Linked DNA regions of Homo sapiens: regions 2, 3, 4 and 5 are each reported to be linked to region 1. The links are microRNA targets in miRTarBase. Many come from high-throughput screens and were not tested one by one. Region 1 holds a microRNA gene; each other region holds the end of a gene's coding sequence.
What was found. Region 1 holds the annotated microRNA hsa-miR-2467-5p (UGAGGCUCUGUUAGCCUUGGCUC, at 3,355-3,377, shown strand). A microRNA usually pairs through its seed, bases 2 to 8, with sites in the 3' UTR of a target mRNA and lowers its output. Matches are read on the target gene's strand: a 7mer-m8 pairs with bases 2 to 8, a 7mer-A1 pairs with bases 2 to 7 and ends in A, and an 8mer does both.

Region 1 (5,102 bases):
CTTACTTATGTATCTTCTGACAACGTTTTTGAATTTTAAGATTCAAGAAAAAAATGCCAGTAGATTCCAGGCAGAAGAAAATGGTAACAACCACAACATCAAGACTCGGCCCCCAAAGTTTTACCTGGAAAGAAGCTGTAATTGAGCTGGACTTAAACTTCCCTACAATGTTGAGGGGGGAATGACATCCAAAAATTTTGAGGGGGGCATATTTGTGATCTAAGATTTTTATACCCAGCTGAGATGTGTTTTTTTGTGTGAAGGATACTGTCATCTGAGATTTGTGAGGGTTTGAAAAATATGCCATCTACATTCCCTTCAAGAAAATGTCTCTTTCTGACCAAGAGATGAATAAACATTCTGACCCTGAAGACAAATAAGTCATTGTCATTCCTAAGGAGATAACCAGATACAGAACAACAGTCATGAAGATATTAATCAGAGTTGTAGATACAATGAACATAAAGTTGGAAAGCATCTAGATAGCCAGCCTTGGGGGCGGGGGTGATTCTTTACATGATGAACTGGTTAGAGTTCTTTGGTTATAAGCAATTGGCAAAAAAAAAAAAAAAAAAAAAAAAAAAATTTCTAGACTAATTAAATCAAGAAAAGGAATTGGTCACACTTTTAAAGAAAGATGAACACAGAAGCCTCTGAAAGCACTTGAGCTGGGATCAGCCAGGGACTCTCAGTGGTAGGAGTGCTGAGACTTGTCTCTTTTGGGTTCATCTAGTGACTGATCTATTGAAGAGGCAGGCCTTGGAAAGAGAACTTGATGAGCTCAGCTGGTGCCACATGCCACTCTTTGGCCCGACACTTCCCTGGGAGCAGCAGGCTCATCCGAAGCTCCTGAAGTGGGGCGGGGCAGCTGTCTATCCACACATGGAATAGGAAACAGCCCTTCAAAACGAAGCTTACCAGGTATTGTTAATGCCATTGGAAAATGCCTGGCTGTAATATCAGCACAGAGAACGTGATAGACAGCTGTATCACTAGAGGTTCGTATGGGCAAAAGGCAAAGAAAAACAACGGCAAGGAAGCATGTCAGAATGTTACCAAGGGCTTGTCTGTGTGTGATGGCATCATGGATGACTTTTTAAATACTTAACCTGTGATGCGCATGTATTGCTTTTATAAGCAGAAAATGAAAACCTGAGAAAATGGTCATTATGAAGACAGAAACATGAGGGAACTATTTTAGGTTATCATGTTACGTGAGGAATGCGGACTTTAGAATTAAATTCTGTGATTACACAGACATTGTGACTACGAATGTCTATGGATCCAGGCTGATGCAAGCGTGCAGTAATGACATTTTGTGGTGGGAATGTGCTGAAAGTGATTTTTCTTTTAAAACATTTTATTTCATATTTATTTCATAAGCTAATATGACAGAATAAATTTATATTAGTTGGAAGATACTCTGCTTCCTTTCAAAAGCCTAATGTTGGAGAAACTTCTGGAAGGGGTAAGGAAGGTGTCTCTAGATCAGATATTTTGAACCAGGGGATGATATTATCCCCCAGAGGACCTTTGGCACTCCCTGGAGACATTCTTGGTTGTCATGACCTGGAAGATGCTGCTGGCATCTGGTGTGTGGAGGCCCAGGATCCTGCTAAATATCTTATAATGTGTATGGCAGCCCTACACCCCAACACCTAAATACGCAAACCAAAATCCCAGTGGTACTGAGGCTGAGAAACCCTGCTCTCTGGAGACATTTTTACATGTCTGTGATTTACTAACAAAAATCCCACTGCTCGTATTTGTAGAAATGATTCCGTCGAACTGTTCTATCAGTCCTTGGTCAGAACAAGGATAAAGAAGGAAGTTGGTGGGGCGTGGTGGCTCAAGCCTGTAATCCCAGCACTTTGGGAGGCTGAGGTGGGTGGATCACTTGAGGTCAGGAGTTTGAGACCAGCCTGGGCCAACATGGCAAAACCCCGTTTCTACTAAAAATACAAAAATTAGCTGTGCCTGGTGGCATGCACCTGTGTTCCCAGCTACTCGGGAGGCTGAGGCAGGAGAATTGCTCGAACCCAGGGTTGCAGGGGTGGTGGAGGTTGCAGTGAGCCCAGATCGTGCCACCACACTCCAGCCTGGGCGATAGAGCAAGATTCTGTCTCCAAAAAAAAAGAGGAAGTCATCATTTCCCTAGTTGGATGTTGTTTTCCAGATCGGAACTTCCATGTTGTAACTCCAGTCTCTTTTCTCCTTCTGACCTTGCAGGTTCATCTGCAGAAGCCAGCGGACGCCTCTGTTCAACTTGTGGGTTACCTGGCTCATGAGACCTTGCCGGCGAGGCTCGGCGCTTGAACGTCTGTGACCCAGCCCTCACCGTCCCGGTACTTGTATGTGTTGGTGGGAGTTTGGAGCTCGTTGGAGCTATCGTTTCCGTGGAAATTTTGAGCCATTTCGAATCACTTAAAGGAGTGGACATTGCTAGCAATGAGCTCCCAAAGCCATCCAGGTAAGGCCGGGTCATTTCTTCTCTGGGCACACAGCGGGGCTTTCTTTGCCCAAAGTAGAAGTTCTTGTGACTGCAGCTTGCTTTCTGGATTTGAGACTTTTGTTTTTCTTGATAGTGGTCACTGTTGGTTTTTGACAGCACAAAGTGCAAAATGGATGGTTTATTCTTCCTCTTGGTGAAAGAAGAATGATAAAACCTGGGAGGATGTGGAGTCAAGTCTGCGACCCCGGTTTGCAGGCTGACTTGAGAGGCACACAGGTTTCCTCGATGCTTTTTGACAAGGGTGATGTTGAAAGGTCAGGTTGTGATGTGGAGAGCTGGTTTCTTGCCCAGTGTCTTTGTTGTTTCATGAGGGGTTGTGTGAGGGGTGGGAGTGCTCCTCCAACTGGGCGTCTGGGCTGTCTGGGAAGAAGCTCATGTTCCCACTGAGGTCGTGGCCACAGTTGCTCCTGGTGTTTGAGGGCCTCTGTGAGGGGCTGCACTAAGCATTTTACAAGCATTTAGTACAGCCCCAGATCATCTCAGGCCTGGAGGGAAGAAGTAATTTGCCTGAGGTCACAGAGCTGGTAGGTGGGGGACCCACATGATTGGGAAGCAAGCTTGTCCTGCTCTGAGCTTCAGAAGCATGTCATGGGCCCATCCATTTACGACTTCACACTTTCTGTCCTTGGAAAGTCACCGAGAGCGTGCACCATAATGAAACCTCGAGGCCTGCCGCCGACCTGCCTGAGTGTGGGGCTCCTGCAGAGCCAGTCCTGTGCTGCCCAGCTTCCTGCCACTTCCAGCGCACCGTGGCCTTCAAGGGCACTTAGCCATCGACTTCTGTCTTGCGTCCACATGAGAGAGAAGACGGTGGCCACTGGACAGACGCTTGGACAGGCACCTGAGGCTCTGTTAGCCTTGGCTCTGGGTCCTGCTCCTTAGAGCAGAGGCAGAGAGGCTCAGGGTCTGTCTGGGTCACTCTCTTTGAGATTGCCGGAACGCTTACACACATCTTTCCCTGGGTGGAATCGTCTTTGTCTGAAAATTCCAGAGGGCAAGATTCCAGGTTTTTTTAGATATGAAAGTTTTATTGAGTTAAATTGTTTATGTATTGACTGATGTAAAGAAATGGTTTATGATCATTCCAAGACAAAATTAAGCGCTATGGCTCAAAGTGTCTAAATAGACATTGAATGGAGCTGGCTCTCTCCCTCCTACACTGGGCTGCTGTTGGGTGAGAGTGTATCTTTTTTCTGTGTCTAAACATAGTGTGATGTGTGTGAGCATTTTCATAGAGTATAATTCTATAGGCAGGGCCCTGTGTTTTACATTCTGTCCATTTTAATGTGTTATAAGCATCTTTTGGTATCAGTATGTGTGCAAATATAACTTGCTCTTTTGATACCTTGCGAATGGATATTTATGTGGTTGTAGCAGTGTTTATACCAATTCCAAATTGGCATCAAACAATTATTATACATATATTTTGTAAACTTCTAAGTATCACTACTAGACAAATTCCAGGAAGTGGAAGCTGGGTCAGTGAGCCCGTGCACTTAAAACATCATTAGGTTGACTGTCAAATTGCTCCAGAAGCCTCGTTCCAACTGATCTTCCTAATTCCAGTGTAAGAGGATGCATATTTTTCATTTGTGCTGTACCAGCACTGGGTAGGTTCAGTCTCTCTCATTTTTGTCAGTGTGCTATGGGAAAATTATTGTTTGAGTACACTTGATTATTTTAATGGGGGTGCATATTTTTGTATGACTTGGTGTACACATAATCATAATTTGTACATGCTCTGCAGGCATTTGAAGAGAAAGTATGCTCTTAGGATTTTGTTTCAGTCTAAAGACGTCTGTATGTATGTATCAATATTGTATTTAAAGTTCTCGGCCGGGCGCAGAGGCCCACAGCTGTAATCCCAGCACTTCGGAAGGTCAGGGTGGGCAGATCACAAGGTCAAGAGATTGAGACCATTCTGACCAACATAGTGAAACCCCATCTCTACTAAAAATACAAAAATTAGCTGGGCGTGGTGGCGTGTGCCTGTAGTCCCAGCTACCCAGGAGGCTCAGGCAGGATAATCGCTTGAACCTGGGAGGCAGAGGTTGCAGTGAGCTGAGATTGCGCCACTGTACTTCAGCCTGGCGACAGAGCAAGACTCCGTCTCAAAAAAAAAAGTTCTCTCATTTATATATATTTTATTTATATATAGGAGGATATGTATCCTTTCTTTATATGTTGTTTTAATTATATATTAACTCAGTTGAGTTATTTAAATCAGTATAGCTTTACTTATTTTTTTCTGTCTGCTCGATTTCTTGGAAAAGTGTATTTTTCTACTGTGATTATAGTCTTATAATATTCTTTTTACATTAATAACCATTTTTTGCTTTATATAGTTCAGTGTTTTTTTTTAAAGCTTAAAAATTAATGACTGTTCTTTTGGTAGATCAGGTCTCTTATCAAAATATAATATATTTCTCTTTGTTTAATGTTTCTTTGACCGAGAGCTTATAGTGTTTCATGAGGTATTTCTACCCTTGGTTTCTTTTGGCTAACAAATATTTCTCCATCCGCTTGTCTCTAACCTTTTCAGGCCGGGTTCTTTGAGGCTCAGCTCTGGAAACCGCGGGGTGCTGGGTTT
Region 2 (5,102 bases), not on the chromosome of region 1:
TGGCAATACATGGATGGGAATCCCAGGAAGAGGGAGAGGAATTTAGCAGGGACCCGCAAACTAAGTCTGCGGCCCCAATTTCACAGACGAGCTGAGCCAAGGTCACGCCCAACGAACCTGGTTTCTTCCCCTCCTTCAAACGAGGCCTAAAAACAAGGACCCGAGACAGGGCACTTCAGCCTCGATGTAGGGAATGGAGCGAGAGCTCTAGAAAAGGCGGATTCCTTCAGGGTGTCCCCACTCCTTGACACCAACACACAACAGTGGTTACTGCCACTGTTGGAGGGAAGAAGGGCTGGCACCCAGCAGCACCACCATATAAAGTCTCAGGAAAGTGTGTAACTCTACCGATGGAACAGGACATGAAACAGAATCACATGTGTTAGAAGGGGTAGAGACTGCAGCTCCAGGGTTGAGTGGGTGGGATCTGGGGTCAAGTCCTGGATCTACCTCTCACCATTTGGGAGAATAGGGCAAATGTATTTATTTTGGTGGGAGTAAAGGGGATAGGATGTTTCTTAATCTCTTTAAGCCTCAGCTTCTTCATCTTGCGTTGTTGGAGGATTAAATGAGATTTAAATGAGTGCAAAGTTCAATAAATCATACACATCAATTCTCCAACAGCATACACATTTCAGGCATTTTAGGAGCCCCATCTCATGAAGGAAATCCATACTACTGTGGCAGATGGGGGTGGGGAGGCACTTTCCACTCAACACCTCAGTTCAACTCTGGCCAGTGGCACCTGCCGGGGTGGCTTGGGGCTTGCCACCTGGAGGCCCAGCTCCAGGGACACCCTTCACAGAATATCCTGTGGGAACGGCACCCCCCTCCAAGCACAACAGGGCCCCTTGAGTTTTCAGGTATCAAGACAGGAGACGACACGACATGAGCAGTGGGCTACCATTATTAAGCACTTAGTGTTTGCCCAGCATGGTACAACAATCTGGTAGGTGGGTAGTTTATCTCCAATGACACATGGGGACAAGGGGATAAGTTATCTTGCCCAAAGTCACACAGCCAGTGAGTGTTGGAAGCTGGATTCAAACCCAGACGTCAGATTCCAGAGTCCATTCTCTTCAAGGCTGGACTTGACCCCACCCTGACCCAGGGCCCAGATTTGAGGGCTCTCTCTGAGCCCACCTGACTTTCCTCCAGGGTCAAGGCTGGCTGGGTCCCCTGGAGCCCTCTCCTCCACCCCCACACCCAGAGGACAGGCTGCATCAGGGGTCTTCCCACCCCCACCCCATACCAAGGCTGCTGGAGAGGAGCCTGGCCCAAGGTGGCGCTGCCCCTCTTGGACCTCCAAGAATGCCGCATGGAGCAGCCCCTCAGGGCTGTAGTCCCTCTACACCTACATTGGGCCCCTCCAGCCTGGACCCCCACCCCTCCCACTTCCTGGCTTCCCATCCTTCAGGTCTCGCAGAAGCCTCCTCAACACCCTCCCTGCTTGGTCTCTATCCTTCAGAACCCTCATCACAACCTGTCCTTGCCTCTAGAACGGAAGCCCCATAGCAGCAGGGACCACGTATCTGTTTTAGCTTCAGTTTCTAGCCCAGTGCAGCATTGTGAAAATCCTTAGTAATATTTTTAAAAAGTTTTCGAATTCTACTTTTCTTTGCTGACTTGGCATGTGCTTTCTCCTCTGCCCGTAACCCCCGTTCCTCCTTATTTCCTTGCTAACACCTACTCGTCTTTCAAAGCTCCATGCCACTGTCTCCTTGAGGAAATTGTTCCTGTGCCCCCAGTAGGTAACACACCAGACAGAGGCGAGATTCTCTATCCCGCCCCAGACAAGGAGCCTTTGCTTTGCAGGGCTCCCCTTGGGACCCTCTCTTGCCAGGAGAGCCTCTAGAGAAGCCATCTAGAAGGGCATTCAAGACTCAGCAAGCTCCAGCTCCCAGCCTGGCAGACTGGGTGGGGGAGGGCCCAGCTGGTGGGCGAGGCTGGTTTATCGATGTTGCCGAGAGCCCTGGGGAAATCAAGGTGAAAGGCAGCCACGCTGCTGAGGAGGCCCACCCGTTTATCAACCAGAGGGGCTGGGGCCGGGCGAAAAGAGGCTTGGCTGCCAGAGGCAGCTGTGAGGTGGGAGGTCCACACCACTCCGTGGACCTGGAGGCTGGGCTACACACTGTGCAGCCCGGGCTGCTGCGACAGTGTTTCCAACATGGCGCTAATTCTAGGTAACTAAGTTTGGCTTTAGAAATACCGTCACTGGAGCCACAGGGCTTGCTGACAGAAATCCCCAGCACTTGGCATTGGGCAAGGAGCCCTTAGGGGGTGAAGGGCAGGCTTATTCAGCGGCCTTGGTGCAGTGGGCACACAGGGCACCGGCCCTGGGAGCCTCTGTCTTCCTCTTGCAGGCCAGGGTTGCCTCCTGATTGTGGGTTCCTGTCTGTCTCTCAGGCCCCCAGCCAGGGCCAGCCCAAGGGAGCAGGGGGTGCAGAGCACAACCAGGAGGATGGAGCCAATGGGTGCCTGGAGCAGGGGCACAGAGAGGGAGTCCAACCCAGGAGCCCAGCAAGGCGCTGCAGCTAAAGAGGTCGAGGGAAACATGCAGGGAGACTGCCATCCCTCCCCAGCCCCAGCTGCCCCATAGCAGGAGTGGCCTTGGCATCCCACCTGCTCCACATAGCACCCAGGCCATCTGAGCAGAGTGAAGATGTCAAAGAGAAAACCAAATCGGATTGAGGCTCCTGCTCCCCCTTAATGAGGTTCATTATCAGCAGCTCTGATCCTTGTAAAACCCAGCAGGCCGGATTAGGGGCAGGCTCTCTAATCCTGGCTGACTCCTCCCCACCGAGTGGCCAACCCTGCAGCTCTGACAAACAAGCCCTTGCTTCCTGGAGGAGCTGGAATTAGGCAGGTGCAGACAGGCTTCTCCCTCACCAGCCCAGGGCACTGAGGCAGGAGCTCTCAGGGAGGATTGGGGCAGGGGGTGGCAAGGCTGCACATCCAGAGGCCTGTCTCCGTGCATGAAAAGGCCATGGGGTTTGGGTGCAGACAGTTCTATGGGCAGTCTGTGGCCAGGAGCTGTGTGTGCTGAGGGACATCGAGTCTGGCTGCATTCCAGGTGAGGCTGGTCTCTGTGCATTCTGTCCAGACTGGACACTAGGTCTCCAAGTAGCAAGTTAAAGAACACACCAATGCTTGCCTTAACAAAAATAATTTATTCCACACACCTCCCAAGGCAGGGGGTAGCGTGGGAATCAAGCATGTGTAAGGCACTGCCCCCGCCAGACCCTTCTAACTTCTGCACACTGGAAGGTGAAACCTGGAGAGAGAAGACACTCCCCTCCCTAGCTTCTACCTGGCACCCTCCAAAGATGAGCATTCATCTTGGAGACCAAAATAAAAAAGGACAAAAGACCAGGCTCAGAGGGAGCAGAGCTCAATGGGGGGAAGTGAAAGCAGCCATCTTCTCCTGCAGCTAAGCCAGGGCAAGGCACTAGAGACCCACATCCTTCCCATGCCACCAACTCGTCAGGTCCCACCAAGCAAGCCACTCACCCTACAGCCCAGCAACCATGGCTTGCCTCACCTGGGAGACCAGCACGACTTCCAGAAGCTTCCAAACCCCACCCTGAAGCCAAACCCCACCCAGGAGGTCTGAGGAGCTGGAGGCTGGCCAGGCATAGAGGGCCCGGGGTGGTCCTTCCTCCCAGGGTGCAAAGGCTTCTTCATTGTCCGGAAGGGAGCAGGGTGGGCGGAGCCCCAGCAGCTAGTGAGGAGTTCCATTCCAGCCCACCCAGCTGGGGGACCCTCCTCTGGCTTCACTTGCCCCAGTTGAGGGCCAAGACCAAGCAGGAGAGACTGAGGCTCCAGTGAGAATGAGGCAGGACTTCAAATAAGCTGAAAAACAGGAATGTGGTGCTAAGAGGCCAGGGACTGAGCTGCCCTATGCCCACTGCCCGGGGCTGCCCTCCCTGCACAGCAGGGGAACCTGGACCCTGCTCCTGTCTTTTGTGTCAAAGGAGCTCTCTGTCCTAGCAACCCCAAGAAGCTTCACTGGAGCAACTCGTTTTCCTGAATTTCCCACACTTCTAGGCCAGACAAGGAGCAAGGGGTGGGAGGGGAGGGAATGGGGTCAGGGGGCTTGAGGTGCCTAGAGATGGCAGCTCCCTCTCCCGCCTCCTCCCCAGGTGGTTCAGGCTGCAGGGTGGCCAGCATGGCCCTTCAGGGCCCTTATCTTGGCCTGGAAGTAGGTGTACATGGCCAGCAGGCCCATGAAGGACAGGGAATAGAGCCCCACACAGAGGCTGATGTCCAGGTAAGAGAAGCCCCCTCCCAGCACCTGCAGCCACTGGCCTCGGCCCCGTCCAGCTCGGGCCTCCAGCTGGCCCTCAGGGATGTCGACCAGCTGCTTGGAGCTGCGGCCCACGCGCCTGACCTCCAAAGGGCCCCAGAGGCGGTTCTTCTCAGCCCTGGACTCAGCCAGCAATGCAGCCCCTGTGTCTCGCTTGCTCAAGTGCCACTGCCCAAGCGGCTGCTCCTGCTCATTCCTCTGAAGCTCTGCCATGTGCTCAGGAGGCTCCTGGCCTGGTGCAGCTCTGAGGCCAGGGTGCAGCTTCGGGGGTCGACTTGCCTCAGGTCCCTCAGCCGGCACATGTGGGGTGGTGTTTGTGGGGGACTTCATCATCTCAGGCTTCCCAGGGTCCAGAGTTGAATTCCGGCTTTCCAGCTCCAGGGCTCCCATCGCCAGCTCTGGGGCGGCTGCCACATTCTGCACATCCCTCCGGGCAGCTGACCCAGCTGCAGGGAAGTCCAGGATGATGTTGCTTGGGGAGAAGTGGGCCTTGAGGAAGTTGAGGGTGGCTTCCACGTCCCACACGGGCACATCCAGGCGTTCATTGTGGCAGGCAGAACAAAGTTCACGGGGTGGCCACTGCACCTTGGGGAACTGGGGGTCCTCGCTGGGGGCACCTACAGAGGGAAGCATACACAGGCTGGTGGTGACATCAGTCCCACCCAAAAACCCAGACCACACTCCTCCACTCAGAACGCCAGCTTCCTTGTCTGCAGAAAGGGCTCGCCACTGCCCTTCCAGAGGATGGGTAATTAGAAAATACAGATTACAAACACTAGCCCACAGTGGGAGCTCA
Region 3 (5,102 bases), not on the chromosome of region 1:
TGCCACACCAGGAGTCCCAGTTAGAATTTTTTTTAAAAATGCATTTGTGTCATTTTGTTTAGAAAGACAAAAACTATCTTTAAACTTAAAACCAGATTTTAAACTACTTTTCTAATCGTATGAATTGGTCATGACTCAATCTTCCAGATTCATTTTTAAAATCATGACTATGAAAATAATACTTTTTTATAGGAGATAGACATGTTTGAGAGTACGTTATGTGGCCAAGAATGTGAGATTTGTTGCTCTATTTCAGTATAACAAACTAGAAGGATCTCTCAAGTAATTATTTTTTAGTCATTGTTGTATGTAATTACAGACCACCCAATAGGAGCAAACAATGAATAGTTAACCAAATTTAGTAAATACAACTTAACAAAAGTAAGAGAACAAAAGTGAGAACATGTAAATGTAATATTTGTTGTTTTATATATTCCAGATTCAGAACAATTTGTGGGCAGGAAATGCAAGTGGTGGTTCTGTGGTTACTTCATGCATGTTACCACGTGACACTTCCTCCTGTATGACACCTTATTCTCACTCGCCTCGGACAGATTCCAGTTACACGGGGTTTTCAAACCACCAGAACCAGTTCAGCCACGTGCCCCTCAACAATTTTTTCACTGACTCTCTTCTTACTGGGGCAACCAATGGACATGCATTTGAAACAAAGCCAGAGTTTGAAAGGAGGTCTTCCAGTATCGCAGTTCTTCGAATGAAAGCCAAGGAGCACACCGCCAATATTTCATGGGCCATGTAACATACAGTACTCTTTTATTTTTCTTTTAATAGCAAAGTTAAACATTCTTATTTCTCATATTTAAAGGATACCACAATAAGCTGCTGTGTGTGGAATTGCTAAAGGTCAAGATATTCAGTGAGACCAGCTTAAATGAATAGTTGTTATTTAACATTAAAATCTAAGAATGAACCTCTGAAAAGACTAAATAGGTTTACCATGTGCCAGTCTCCACAAACCCTGTTTTAGTAGTAAGGTTTTCTTTTTCTATTGTACAAGTCAATGAAATATGATCACGCAACTTATTAAAGAATAAATGTGTTAAACAAATTCTTCTGTTATAGATTGATTTATGTTACTTCTGTATAACAAGAAATCTCATGTAAAATAATACCTGATAAAGAAGGAAATGCACTGGGGAAAATGTCAAGATGCCAAAGTCGTCAGGTAAATATTGAATCAGGGTGTTCTGGGGAGTTAACTGCTCTCTCTCTCTCTCCAAAAAGCAGTGGGCAAAAACCCTGTTGCTGAGAATTTATTTTCAAGCCTCATTTTTGTTTTTGTTTTTACCCTTTGATGTTTTAGTGAATTTCCACTCTGTTAAACAAGGGATCTTTTAAAATAACCAACATTCGCATGAGATATTTGGGCATGGTTTCCTGAAGCCACATGGCTAAAGGTGATAACTGAAGTATTCTGGTGTGATTGAAAATATAGTCATGGGAGCGGACTTTATAAATGTCATTTTTCCAGTGAAGAAGCCAGCATAGACTCAATTACTTAATCATCACAAACAAGAAAAAATTTATAAACCTTGCTGTTGCTTTTAAACTAAGATCGTGTTGATTAAACTGTGCACATAAACCACTAATTAATACTACACTGAAAGTAACATTTTCTGTTAAAGCATCAGCGAGTTGGAATTTATATGTATTTTGTGGGTATGTGCATGCTTACATGCATGTGTGTTTGTTTCTCAACATATTATGCCTTAAGCATTTTTTGCTACTGTGGTTTTTGCATAGAGAATTAAAATGTCAGAAAGCTTTCTAAAATTTCTGTTGGAAAAGAAGAGAAGAAAAATACGTTGCATCTGGAAAATTGCTAACCCCTTTGATTTACTTCTCCTCCCTTTACCCTGTCACATTCCAAGCTTTTTCAGATGAGTGAAATGTCAACCTCCATGAAAGATTCTTAAGTTCATAAAGGCAAAGTAAATTAATTGAAATGAAGATGACTTCCATGGCTCAGATTAGAGCTGAGCTCTTTGTACTCTGTAGAATCTTCTTGTGGTTCCTGCAGACTTTAGGAATATGCTTGGGAGCTCTAATGGCTAAAGGACGAGAATAAATGAATTTTAAAATTAAATTTTGGAAAAAGTACTTAAATCCCGTAAGTGTATCTTCTTAGTGGGAAAATATTTATAGCAATTAAACATCTTTTGTAATAAAATTTTAAATCAAGCTGATGATAGAAATGAGTAATGTCCTAAACAAACATTCCCTGACTTCATAATACTTTATTCTTTATTACTTTTGTGTTCCCTTTCTTTATTTTTGTTTCTAAAAGAAATGTGTTCAATTTGGCTGTGAGAATTATGCTTTCATGCAAGATCTTTTGTTAAAAGTCTATTTAGGCAGCTGTTAAATATCCTTTTTGGTTTTAGAAGAGAATGACTTATTTTCATATATATTCATATATGTGGTTAATAGGAATTTGTGAACTAAAACTTAAAACAAAAAGGTAAGATTTTCTTTTCAAAAATTTCACAAATTAATAGTGTTCATTTTCATTTTCTTCCTCTTTAATTTAAATTTTAGTATCCCTTGGCTAGTACCATATATTTTTCAAATGAGAGACAGAAGTCATATTGTCAAGTTCAAATTTCATTTTCTTCCTCAGTTTTTCTAGTCTTTTTCTCCTTATACTTAATAATTAGGTAATAATTAGTTGGAGCTTCTATAACTATTTTTTCAATTGAAACATCTTTTTAATTAAGGTTTTACATCTATAATTCTCTGTATAATTCACATATTTTAAAAACATAGATGAAGGACTATTTGCAATAATAAAATAAGTAATGGAATCATAGTTCTTGTCCTTTATGAGTTCACAATCTTCCTGGACAAACACATGCCTGAAGTTTTTACCCTCAGCCATGCCTCAAATTGTATTATGGCAGTAAGAATCTCATGAATTTTCCTGTGTTAACATTCCAACTTCCTTTTTTACACAGTGAATTTTTATTATGTATTCAAGTTGCCAAAAATAAATAAAATGAACTTTTGATATAATAGGGTAAGATAAAGCTAAAACAAAGTACATAAAATGAATTTCCTGAATTTTCTCTTGCTCCTTCTGAATTTAAGTTTCAATACTAGAATTCATATTGATGTTATATACTTTTCTTAAGAGAAAAAACTAAGGAACATTTTACTTACTTTTATTTGGGCTTATTATTGATAGTATTATTGGGAGTTTTGGTACAATAAGTAATTTGAACCACATGGACATTTGTTCCCATGGCTATCTCATCCCCTATTTGCCCCTTCCATACATTTTCCTTGCATACATGGTTTAAAAGATGCTTCTTGTACTCTTTTTCTTGAGCAACATGGTTAACCCTTGAACCTCATGAGGAGAGATAAATTTATGGGAAAATTAGGTAAGGTTGCAGTTTCTTAAGGATAAAATGAAATTTAAGAAATGGTTTATAAATTTTTGAAAGTGTCTTATTTATTTGTTATGAATATTAAATAGTAAGTATTTTATTCTTACATAATATCTTATGAAAGTAGAAAAATAAAGTCACTGCAGTCTTTGCCCTGAGTCCTGACAACATATCTTAAAGGAATAACAGTTATGTAACCTATATAACCTTGAGGAAACTCATGAAATTGTGTGTATAAATTATGGGAATGTATTAGTTTCATCCTTTCATCTGACTGCTTATTTTGCCTTCAAGGGAGGGATAACAGGCAGACCATTTGACTTAACACAGTTCCTCCCAAGATGATATGCAATTGTTTACTTTTTGTCTCTTTACTTTCTTCTCTCAAATACCTTTGGACTTAATACAGTTCTTCTCAAGACAATATGCCATTGTTTTCTCTTTGTATCTTTACTTTCTCATCTCAGACACTTGGTGCTTGTTGTGATTGCCATGGTATAATTCACATATCACCTCTATCTGTGTGTGTGTGTGTGTGTGTGTGCGCGCGTGTGTGTGTGTGTGTGTGTGTTTTTCGGAGTTTCGCTCTTATTGCCCAGGCTGGAGTGCAATGGTGTGATCTCGGCTCACTGCAACCTCTGCCTCCCAGGTTCAAGCGATTCTCCTGTCTCAGCCTCCCAAGTAGCTGGGATTACAGGCGCCTGCCACCATGCCAGGCTAATTTTTTGTATTTTTAGTAGAGACGGGGTTTCGCTATATTGGCCAGGCTGGTCTCGAACTTCTGACCTCAGCCTCACAAAGTGCTGGGATTATAAGCGTGGGCAACCACGCCCAGCCTCCATCTGTTTTATGTAATGCTGTTCTATATATAATGCTATAGTTTTAGTTAACCAGCAACTAAAAAAATGCCTTGGATGAAATAAGAAGTGAAAAGATCAATTACAGTGTTTATATAAGCTTTGAAAATTTTAATTTCCTAAATTTATCAGTGGCTCTTATTTCTGTCTTTCAACATTTAATTCAGATAATATTCTATACAATAAGTAATTATGTTAGCATATTTTGTATTAAAATATTTGTCACTTATACTACCAAATATTTTAGGAGAAAAATTTAAATGATCTTATTTTTAAAATTCCAGTTGGTGGTGACCTCTCTTTTCTCTAATTAGAATGTAAAAATATATCTTTATTACTTAGCTCATAATTGTTCTCTTTAACCTATTTCTACTTTTAAAAATTAGGCATTTAAAACTTCAACAGATATTATTTCCTTATAGAAATTCATATATTGCATTGACTAAGAAGTATGACTTTTTGCAAGATAATCTACTTATTAAAGTGATATATTAAATAATATTTTAGCTCTTGGCCTCTAAGTCCTATTATATATATTTTATATACGCCAGGTAGTATTAAATAATTTCACTGGTGGTCAAATATGCAAATGAAGTCATAAATGAAATACCTAGCAGTACAGCTCCATTTATGGCCCAAAATCTCAAAAATGATTAAATGTGATATTTTATAGCACATAGTAAATGCTGAAAGAGGTTTTTTTTGTTTCAGTAATTCTCTTTATATAAGCATATTGTCATTAATCTTGGAAATGTACTGCAAGATGGTGAACAATGCTTCAAGACAGGAACTAGCTAATTCTTCAGTTTTACTGAATAAAATAGTAAAGAGCTGA
Region 4 (5,102 bases), not on the chromosome of region 1:
GTGGGTGGGGAAGGATAGGGAGGCGTGGTGGGTTGATGGGCGGGTGTGGGCGTTGCTAAAGGCAAGAGGTCCTCACCCAGCACCGGACGCACGCATCCACCCAGCCCAGCTCAGGGGCTGGTGCCGGCACGGGTTTCACCTGCCGGCTGCCTACGCAAAGGCAGAGAAAGCATAGGAGGGGAGGAGGGCAGGGAGGCCTGGGTCTCCAGGGAGCTGAGGAGGGCTTCTGGGGGCCAGAAGGAAGCTACAAGCAGGTAGGGTTCAAGGAGCGGGGCAGCAGGGCTGGGGTGTTGTCCTCCCTCCCGAGGAAGCGTGGCTGTGGACAGCTTGGCTTTTGGCGTGCGTGCCACAAACATTCCGGCCCTCGCCTCCTCCTGGCTCTGTGCTTGGCACCCCTGCCCCAGATCTTCCCGGCTCTGTGCTTGGGCACCCCTGCCCCAGAAAGGCCTCCCATGGCTTCCGTATCCTCACACCTGTCCAGGTCTTCTCTTCCCACGAGTCTTCACATGAAGAGCCTCTGCAGCCCTTCCCACAGCTTGCAAGGACCAAGGGAGGCCAGCAGGTGGACAGGGGGCCTCAGCCTGCCCTGAAGTCCCGCCAGTCAGTGGTTACCCTCCAGGGCAGTGCCGTGGTGGCCAACCGGACCCAGGCCTTCCAGGAGCAGGAGCAGGGGCAGGGGCAGGGGCAGGGAGAGCCCTGCATTTCCTCTACGCCCAGGTTCCGGAAGGTGGTGAGACAGGCCAGCGTGCATGACAGTGGAGAGGAGGGCGAGGCCTGAGCCCTCACACATGCCCACGCTCCCCTGACACTGAAGAGGATCCACAACTCCTTGGAGAAACACCCTCACGTCTGTTGCCGCACACATTCCTCTCAGCTCCGCCCCATACCCGTCACTACAGCCTCACCTCCCACCCCTGTCACTACGGCCTCACCTCCCACCCCTGTCACTACAGCCTCACCTCCTACAGCCTTAAGTCCCAGGCCCATGTCTGCCTGTCCAAGGGCTCAAGACTTTCTAACTGGGATGTGGTAGAGGGACTGAAGGTACCTTTGGGGGCAACAGCACCCTAGTTTCATTCTCAACTCTAGCCCTGCACACTCACCTGTGGCACGGAATGAAAACAGAGCTTCCCGTGCAAAAAGGGTCACGCCTCCCACCCCCGCCCCCTCCCTGCACCTCCTGTCCTCTCCCAGTTCATTCCTGGAACCAGCCAGGCCAGGCAACCAGTGGCCCCCAAAGGCAGGCAGGATCCTCAGGCCCCAGCCGCGGGAGGCTGGAAGGGCTGGCAGATCGCTTCCCTCATCCACCTCCACCGGTCCAGGTCTTTGCTGCTGTCCCCAGACCTCCTGTGACACCACGCCAGATCACAGGGCACCAGGCCAGAGATAGTCTTCTTTTTGTCCTTTCTGGCCTCTGGCTAGTCAGTTTTTCATAGCCTTACAGTATCTGGCTTTGTACTGAGAAATAAAACACATTTTCATATTTGGTTATTTTCAATGTGACGATGAAGCCATCTGTGTTGCAGTCAGACCCTTCTCTGCTGGCTGGGGAAGGTGGCCGCCCCTTCCTCCCAGCAGTCTCCTCACAATTCCAAGGTGGCTCGTGACAGACCTATTTGGGGGAGTGCCGTGTTTGGGCGTGGCGTGGGAGGAAGATTGGGTAAGAGAAGAGAGGAAGTCAGTGCTATCTCCCCATCTCCTGGGGCAGGGCCTGGTAAATATGACCTGCTCACACCCACCCGCTCAGACAGGTCGGGCAAGGGAAGAAGTCGTCAGCGGGCAGCAGGCATGTGGCTCCACTGTGAGAGCTGGAAGGGGTTACTCATGAGGAAGTGCCTACCTGGACAGGACCAAGCCTGTTCCAAAAGCGAAGCCTCCTTGGGACACTCGGCGCCAGGTTCTCTGGCATGTTTTGGGTCCCAAGAATCACCTTCCTCCTGCTACAAAGCAAAGGGCCTGACTTTCCAAGCCAGGCTATTGCGGCCTGGGAAGAAGGACCCTTGGTGACACTTCCCCTCCTGCCCAGGGGTTCCTTCTGCTCAACTTTAGTGTCCAAGAAGAGTTAGTCATTCCATCTTTTTTTTTCTTTTTTTGAGACAGAGTCTGGTTCTGTTGCCCAGGCTGGAGTGCAGCGGCACGATCATGCCTCAGTGCAGCCTTGAATTCCCAGGCTGAAGAGACCCTCTCACTTCAGCCTCCTGAGTAGCTGGGACCACAGGCACACCTAGCTAAGTGGTTGTATCTTTGTCACTTCCTTTTTTTTTTTGAGACAGGGTCTTGCTCTGTCACCCAGAATAGAGTGCAGTGATATGATCTTGGCTTTCTACAGCCTCAACCTCCCGGGCTCAAGGGATCCTCCTGCCTCAGCCCCTGAGTAGTTGGGACTACCTACATGTGCCATCATGCCTAGCTAATTTTTATCTTTTATTTTTTGTGGAGACGGGGTTTTACCATGTTGCCCAGGCTGGTCTCGAACTCCTGGGCTCAAGCGATCTGCATATCTCGACCTCTCAAAGTGTTGGGATTACAGGCGTGAGCCACTGCGCCTGGCCCATCTTTGTCACTTCTATCCCTCTTCCCAAGATTATGTATGCTCTCTGCTCTATGATACATTACCCTGGTTTGGGGAAGGGGCCGGATTCAACTCCTTCCCTCAAAGCAGTCCTTAGAGATGGGAGCTGGCACCAAGCATTCTCAGTGACTGAGACTTCACGCCCAGTTTTAAGAATGAATCTCTCACCCAGGCCCTGGTGGGACTCCTAGCACTGCTCTAACCCTGAAGTGCGCAGTGGCAGGAGACTTGGATTTAGCCCCAGCTTCACCACTTATGAATTACTTTGCTTTGAGTCTCTGTTTCTTTCTGTAAAATAAAGGGATTAGACCTGGAAATCCCCAAGTACCCCTCTTCACTTTGATGCATTTTATATTATTTATTATTTATTTATTATTGAGTACAGTGGGGTGATCTCAGCTCACTGCAACCTCTGCCTCCCAGGCTCAAGACATCCTGCCTCAGCCTCCTGAGTAGCTGGGACTACAGGGCCACCACGCCTGGCTACACTTTGATACATTTTAACAATACATGCTATCTAGACATTGCTAGATTAGCCTCTACCTCCCTTCCAGAAGAGGAATCCTTGGCACCTATCTGGGTGGTATGCCTAAGGGTCACAAGATGTGGGGTACATGCAAGCTAGTTCTGATTCTTGATCCATCCTGCTGAGCAAACACTGGGGGCTACCCCCCACTCTGTGGCCAACTAGGAGTCCTACCCAGGCTGCCCTTTCAGTATTCCTGGCCTAGGGCTGCAGATGGGTGGGGTGGTGGTGAGAGTGTCGGGGTAAGCCAAGGCCAGGCCCTGCCCCTCCTGCAGCCTGTGCATCTCAGAAGGCAGGTCCAATCAGGAACTCAGAGCTGTGGGGCTCACTAGAATCCACTAGAATCCAGGAGGATTCTAAGAAGTAAGAAGTCAGCAAACAGGGAAATGAAGACTGGAGGGGAAACCGCATCAAAAATACAGACAAGAGGGTGCCGGGTGTGGTGGCTCATGCCTGTAATCCCAGCACTTTGGGAGGCTGAGGCAGGCGGATTGCTTGAGCCCAGGAGTTCGAGACCAGCCTGAGCAACATGGTGAAACCCCATCTCTACAAAACAAAACAAAACTACAAACAATTAGGAACCCTATTGGCTGGGTGCAGTGGCTCACGCCTGTAGTTCCAATACTTTGGGAGGCTAAGGTGGTTGGATCACCTGAGGTCAGGAGTTCGAGACCAGCCTGGCCAATGTGGCAAAACACTGTCTCTACTAAAAATACAAAAATTAGCTGGGTGTGGTGGCGTGCACTTGTAATCCCAGCTATTTGGGAGCCTGAGGCAGGAGAATTGCTCGAACCTGGGAGGCTGAGGTCGCAATGAGCCAAGATTGCGCCATTGCACTCCAGCTTGGGTGACAGAGTGAGACTCCGTCTCCAAAAAAAAATAAAAATAAAAAAAACCCTATGTATACACAAAGCTCACCCAAATTGCTAAAGGGGCAAAAAATAATAAGAAGGATATAAAATGAAAAGTAAATCTCACTCCTACTCTGTCCTCTAGTCCTTCACATCTACTCAGGCAATGACTTGTTACCAGCTGCCTTTGATGCCCTCCAGGTACCCCATGCTTATGTAATCAAATATATTGGTATGTGTATTTTTTAAAAATACAGACAATAGCATGTTAACATACTATTCTACACTTTGAAAATTGGTTCATATCAGAGTTCCACATCGGTACCGTGGTGTTATATATACATTGGTTTTCATCCAGGCTCCTGGCTCATAACCCTCATAGCCCTTGTTCAGTCTTTTGTTCTAATGTTGAGTGTGTCAGGCCTCAGGAGCAGGCCGCAGGAAACAACCTCTTGACATTCTGCCCTCCTCTCCCTTGCCCCAAGGCAGGGCTCTACTGTTCACCCTCACTTTCAGATTGTGGGTTATAAGACCCTCCCCAGAGAGACCCTCCTCCTCACTCTATACCCTGGTGTAAGGAATGCTGATGTCATGAAGCTTCCATTAAAAACCCAAGAGGACTGGCTTCTTGGAGCTCTGGGTAGCTGACCATGTGCAGGTTCCTCCCCGGTGGTGCACCTAGGGAGGGTGTGCACACTCCGCACCCTCCCCCGTGCACATCTTTTCACCTTTATCCTTTGTAGTATCCTTTATAATAAGCCACTAAACGTAAGTGTTTCTTTGAGTTCTGTGAGCTGCTCCAGCAAATTAATCAAACCGAAAGAGGGGATCGTGGGAACCCCAACTTGAAGCTGGTCAGGCAGAAGTTCTGGAGGCCTGGACTTTTGACTGGGATCTGAGGGGAGGGAGATGCAGTCTTGGGGGCTGAGCCTCAACCTGTGCGATCCGACACTATCTCCCGGTAGACAGAGTTGGAATTGAATTGGAGGCCACCCAGCTGGTCTGTTGCTTGGTGTGTGGGGAGAAAAACCCCACACCTTTTTTTTTTTTTTTTGAGATGGATTCTCACTCTTGTCCACCCAGGCTAGAGTGCAATGGCGCAATCTTGGCTCACTGCAACCACCACCTTCCAGGTTGAAGCGATTCTCCTGCC
Region 5 (5,085 bases), not on the chromosome of region 1:
CTTTGCCCACCATTTGAGGGCCAAACTAGAACTCACCCCTGCTGGCCTCTATCCCCAGCGGCCTACATCAAGGCCTACCTGCTAGAGAATGGCATCTGCATTGCCAAGAAGAAGACCAAAGTCGCTCGCAAGTCGCTGGACCCACTGTATAACCAGGTGCTGCTGTTTCCTGAGAGTCCCCAGGGCAAAGTCCTCCAGGTGAGGGGCATTGACGCGCTCACGTGTGTGTGTGTGCACGAGCACACATGCACAGTACCAGAATGAGAGGAGGGCACCCCTGGCGGGGGGTGTCTCTGGAGGGCCTCGCCTGGAGGAAACAGGCGAGGCCCTCAGTTCACTGTGGCTGAACTGAGCTCCACAACTTACTGCACAACTTTGAACAAGTTCCCTTCTGACCCTCAGTTCCTTCATCTGTAAAGCGGGGACCCTAATAGTACCTACCTGATAACATTCTGGTGCCAGTGGAATGTGTGCTGTGTGCAGGAAAAGTATTTGCAGTTTTGCCTACAGCAAGTGTTCTACCCATTACCATCGTCACCGTCACCATTACCATCAACAGCCTCTGGAGGCCAGGGGCTTGGTGTGATGCCCCGTGATAAGAAAGGCCTGTTGAGGAATTGCAGTTTTAAGGAGGTAGAAATCACAGGACTGAGCTGGATTGGGCATGGGGCGACCCAGGTTCTGCTTCTGGGCCTGTGAGTGGCACTGGCAGGATTTGAACCACTGTGTCTCTTGCCCCACAGGTGATCGTGTGGGGGAACTACGGGCGGATGGAGCGGAAGCAGTTCATGGGTGTGGCTCGCGTGCTGCTGGAGGAGCTGGACTTGACCACCCTGGCCGTGGGCTGGTACAAGCTCTTCCCCACCTCCTCCATGGTGGACCCAGCCACAGGCCCCCTGCTCCGGCAGGCATCCCAGTTGTCCCTCGAGAGCACCGTGGGGCCCTGCGGAGAACGATCTTAGTGCTGGAATGGGGAGGGGCTCCCCAAGATGGCCTGGAGACCACCCAGCCCTGACCTGGGACCCCAGGCCCAGGGGCACATTGAACAGGAGGACGGGGCTCTCCCCCACAGTGGGGAAGCAGAACGGGGAGACCTGCCCCCCCTTGGGCCCCTCCTCACCCCTTCTTTGCCTCCTACCCCCGAGACCTCCCCTCTCCCAACGGGATTGGCTACACTTTTGACTTGGCCGGTTCTTGACCTGGTGGATGTGGCTGCAGTCCAGAGAAAGGAAAGATTGAGGTGGCAGAGCAGACCACTCTCCCTTCCCAAACTGTCCAACTTCTCCCCCTTTTTGCCTCCTCGGAAGCTCGCTGCCCAGAGCCATGTCCAGAACCCAGCCGGCCATCTCCATGGTGCCAATTACCAGCAAGTGTCTTTCCTGCGGCACCGGGTTCAGGCAGCTACTCCTGCCCCAGAGATGAAGGGGCAGCTTTGCAAGGATCCGGAGCCAGCTCCCAGGGGCCCAGAGCCCCCCACTTGAAGAGGAGCTTGAGCTTCCCTCTGCCTGCCCGTGGAAGGAGCTTTGCCGCAGCCTGTCCGAGTCCATCCGTCCGTCCCCTCCTGCCTGCCCCTCTTCTGGTGGCTCTAGGAATTGGGGTTCAGCAGGGACCAAAGGAAAGGAGGAGGTGCCGGGGGCCTGGCACAGACCCCTAGGTGCCTCGCTCCATGGGATTGCAACAAGCTAGTTTAGGAACCGCTGGCGGACTAGAAAGAATGTTGTCGTCTGTGTTCCGGTGGAGGAGCTGTGGAACCTGAGTTTCCAGAACCCCAACCCTAGAGAGCATTTGGGGGTGCTGTATTGGAGGGGGAGGCTAAGGAAAGTTGGGATTGGGACTGGTGGTGCCAAGATAAGGGTTTCTCAAATTGGAGAACCCCTCCTTGTTGCATGAGGTCAATGGTCATCCTGTCTACCCACCCTGCCTCCAGGCCAGGGGGCTGGGGAGGCAAATAGAGCCCCCCTATTTTAGTCTTTTTAAAAAAAACATCCTATACTAAGGGCAGAACCCACTGCCCCGGCCTCAATTACCTTGGCTGAAGGAAAGATGGCGGTAGGAGAGAAAAGTGAAGAGGCGTGAGTGTAAGAACTGGGAGATTCCTTTTCCAGCAGGCCTGGGTAGCTGCCTTCCCAGCCCAGCCCTCCCTGGGGCCTGCGGGAGCCCTTTTGCATGCAAGGGAGGATGGAGGCTGGCCCCTCTTTATAGAAGCACATTTCTGCCACCTCCCCTGGGAGGCACCCAGAAGCCTGCCACTCTTTACCTAGTCCCTGCTGTGTAGGGCGTAGTCCAGGTTAGCTAGGTAGAGTTAGTGCTCCAAGCCCTGGGGCCTGTTCTTAGCTCATGCATAGTCCTTACAGAGTCCCAGGACCGGGGGTGGAGAGGAGCCTCAAGTACATTCCAGGAGACCACTGTCTCCTCGCTGGCCTGGGCCTAGATGGGGCAGCCTGGCTCACAGGAGGCCAGCCCCTCCTCCTCCGCCCCCTTCCTTCCCTTGTCCCCGTAGGGTTATAGCTGGAGCTGCCTGTTATACTCGGCTGTTCTGATTTATTATTCTTGGTACTGACTTTCTTTATGAGGGACTCCTAAGGGTTGTAGGACCTTGGCAGAGGGGGCCTGGTCTCCATTAGAGGGTGTTGTTTTCTCCTGAGGACACCCAGGCTGCCTTTGGTCCCACCCTGTTCCTGGTCCCGGTCCCGGTCCCAGTCCCACCAGGCAACTCCTTCCACCCGGAAATTCTTCCCTTCCCTTAGCCTGTGGAAACCCTGGGTATTCTTTAAAGTTCTGGTCAATGTATATCACCTCCACAGAGCTGCTTACCCTGCACTGGGAAGGGGAGATGGAGACGCCCCCTTTACCCAGGAGGTCTTCAGAGTTTCCTGGGACCGCGGTGGGTGGAATCCCAAGGCTGGGGGTGGAAGGAGCAGGGCTCTGGAGGGATTCGCATTCAAGGCACAGAATTGGCCCCTTGCCTGTTTGTTTTTCTAACCAGTGTGATTTCTCTGCTGTTCGTTTATTACTTACCATTGGAATATTTTGAGCCAGGAGAGCGCCTTCTCTCTCCAGCCATCACCGCTGTGGTTGTTCAGGGGTAGCTTTTCAAAAACAGGGCAGAGCCTGGCTGTCCCAACCAGGGGGAGCAGGGGCTTGGCCCTGACAGCCTGAGCCCTTCCCCTGGTGTCTGCACAGCCTTTATAAAGAGAGAGAGAGCTCCGAAGCAATAACAACACCTGGGGGTGGTCAGTGAGGGCCCCCTCAATGATTTTCTTGTTTGTTCTGTGAAATCCCGCTCACCTCCTGGAGGGGTGGAGCAGCTGGGGGCTGGAGCCCTGTTTCTTTGTGTCATCGTGAGCATGTGCCCCTTCCCAGGGGCTGTGACCATTGGGTGTGGGAACTACGGTCTGTCCTCACCAAGGGATGGGGGTTTGGGGAGGAGAGTGACATTTTCATCATTAGCTTCGGAGAAGCTTCAAGCCCATCCTGTCCCCGCTACTGCCTGGCCCCTTGCTGACTCAGGCTGCACTGTTTGAAGAGGAGCAGAGAGGCTGGCACTAGGGGCCACTGGGGGGCTGGGGTCTCCAGGGGATGACTGTTTTCAATCTCTGGGCCAAGATCACATGCAGGATACCATGGGAAGGAGCCATCTCCACTCTCCTTCTCCAGAACCCCCTTGAAGGGCCTTTGGGACCATTAGTCCATTTCCATTTTACAGACAAGGAAATCAAGACCCAGCTTGGGGGAAAAGCCACCCCTGGAGTCACCTGTGTGTTCAGTGGCACCCCCAGCCTGGGTCCCCTCCTCCCAATAGAGGCTGAGCCGGAGCCAGGGCAGTATGAGGTGGGGCTGCCACTGCCCATACCTCCTCCTCCCTTCTTTCTTTGAAGCCTAATGGCCCCCCAAAAGATGGGCAGGACAAGCTGTAGCCCATCTGAGAGGTTGGGAAACTGAGGCCCAGAAACAGGAAGTGACTCACACAAGACCCCTCAGCAAGGGTGCAAAGGGGGAAGAACTAGGGGCTCCATTGTTCTTCAGGCGACAGGAGACCGTTGCTCCAGTGCATGTCTGCTGGGACAAGGATTCCTGGCCTCGAAGCCCTGGGCTGCACAGCCCTACTGGGCTCCACCTCTATAAACCAGTGACTTCTCTGGGCCTGGGTCTGGGGGAGAGGGTTGCCAGGGAGACTCAGCTCTCCTTGGGGGCTGGCCCAGCTGACTGAGGGTACACAGGATTGGGTCTAGACCTTGATGCCTGGGTGGAGGGCCCTTGTAAGGGGCCATAGCCTCTTCAGGACCAACTGGAGGGAGAGTTAGGAAACACCAGCTCCTGCCTGGGGCAGTGAGGGAATGGGAGCAGCTGTGGGCGCCTCATTTCAGGCAAGTCCTCCCCAAACCTTCAGATGCAGTGAGACCTGGCCTTCCTGTTGTGCTTTTCAGACTTTGTTTTCAGAATGCTTTTATCTCGAGTGTGCCCTTCGGCCCTCACAAGAGCCCCTGGGGAGTAGGTGGTGGCCTGTGCCGTCATCCCCATTTCAAAGCAGGGAGCTGAGGTCCTGGGAGGGGAAAGTGCTTGCCTGAGGTCCCACTGTGTTAGTGGGTGGGCAGGACTGGAACTCGGTTCTCCAACAGCCCAGAGCTCACTCTTTTACACCCAGAGGTGGAGCAGGTGGCTTAGGGGGTGGTTATGTACTTCACAAGCCAATTCCCTTCAGCCAGGAGCTCCTGGGTGCATTTCCGTGTCAGAAACAGTACCGAGTCCCACCCCCTCTGGAGGCACAGCTGTTGCGTCAGGCAAGGTCACCTGCATTTATTTATTGAGCAGCAGTGCTGTGTCAGGCCCAGGGACCGAGCCCCTCTCCCTGTTCCCCTATGGTGTCTCCGAGGCCCTCTGGGAGGGCCCCACATCTGGAGCAGCACCTCAGAGTGGACAGAAAGCATTAGCGTCCACGAGCTCACCCGACGCCGAGCCTGTGAGGTGGGCTGATGGTGCCCGTCTAACCCAGCGCTTCAGGGAGGTCAGAATGGAGCCGAACCCAGGGCTGTGAGCATCACCTCTGGAGCCCTTTCACTTTATGACTGCTTCCTGGACGGGTGG

Region 2: miRTarBase lists QSOX1 as a target of hsa-miR-2467-5p. Seed matches in the 3' UTR shown: 8mer at 3,815-3,822, 7mer-A1 at 3,075-3,081 and 8mer at 2,689-2,696.
Region 3: the mRNA of ALX1 is a reported target of hsa-miR-2467-5p. The part of its 3' UTR that is shown has no 7-base or 8-base seed match.
Region 4: the mRNA of SSH3 is a reported target of hsa-miR-2467-5p. Seed matches in the 3' UTR shown: 7mer-A1 at 898-904 and 7mer-A1 at 952-958.
Region 5: miRTarBase lists RIMS4 as a target of hsa-miR-2467-5p. Seed matches in the 3' UTR shown: 8mer at 2,379-2,386.

The regions. Positions count from the first base shown.
Region 1 is chr2:239,350,046-239,355,147 of GRCh38, reverse strand. It overlaps MIR2467 (microRNA 2467), which reads left to right and starts at 3,344; the gene lies at 3,344-3,424. HDAC4 (histone deacetylase 4) reads left to right here. Exons shown (of 27, transcript NM_001378414.1): 2 at 2,230-2,470. The coding sequence starts at 2,449. RefSeq lists a silencer at 2,488-2,681.
Region 2 is chr1:180,196,083-180,201,184 of GRCh38, reverse strand. It overlaps QSOX1 (quiescin sulfhydryl oxidase 1), which reads right to left. Exons shown (of 12, transcript NM_002826.5): 12 at 1-4,923. The coding sequence ends at 4,148. Among named protein-coding and RNA genes, the nearest start is that of LHX4, 32 kb to the left of the region's middle. RefSeq lists an enhancer at 5,076-5,102.
Region 3 is chr12:85,300,716-85,305,817 of GRCh38, forward strand. It overlaps ALX1 (ALX homeobox 1), which reads left to right. Exons shown (of 4, transcript NM_006982.3): 4 at 440-1,069. The coding sequence ends at 760. Among named protein-coding and RNA genes, the nearest start is that of LINC02820, 15 kb to the right of the region's middle.
Region 4 is chr11:67,311,110-67,316,211 of GRCh38, forward strand. It overlaps SSH3 (slingshot protein phosphatase 3), which reads left to right. Exons shown (of 14, transcript NM_017857.4): 14 at 482-1,483. The coding sequence ends at 778. Among named protein-coding and RNA genes, the nearest start is that of SSH3, 10 kb to the left of the region's middle.
Region 5 is chr20:44,752,011-44,757,095 of GRCh38, reverse strand. RIMS4 (regulating synaptic membrane exocytosis 4) reads left to right here. Exons shown (of 6, transcript NM_182970.4): 5 at 59-198; 6 at 744-5,085. The coding sequence ends at 962. It overlaps KCNK15 (potassium two pore domain channel subfamily K member 15), which reads right to left. Exons shown (of 2, transcript NM_022358.4): 2 at 4,783-5,085. Among named protein-coding and RNA genes, the nearest start is that of KCNK15-AS1, 8.3 kb to the right of the region's middle. RefSeq lists enhancers at 1-360, 4,608-5,085.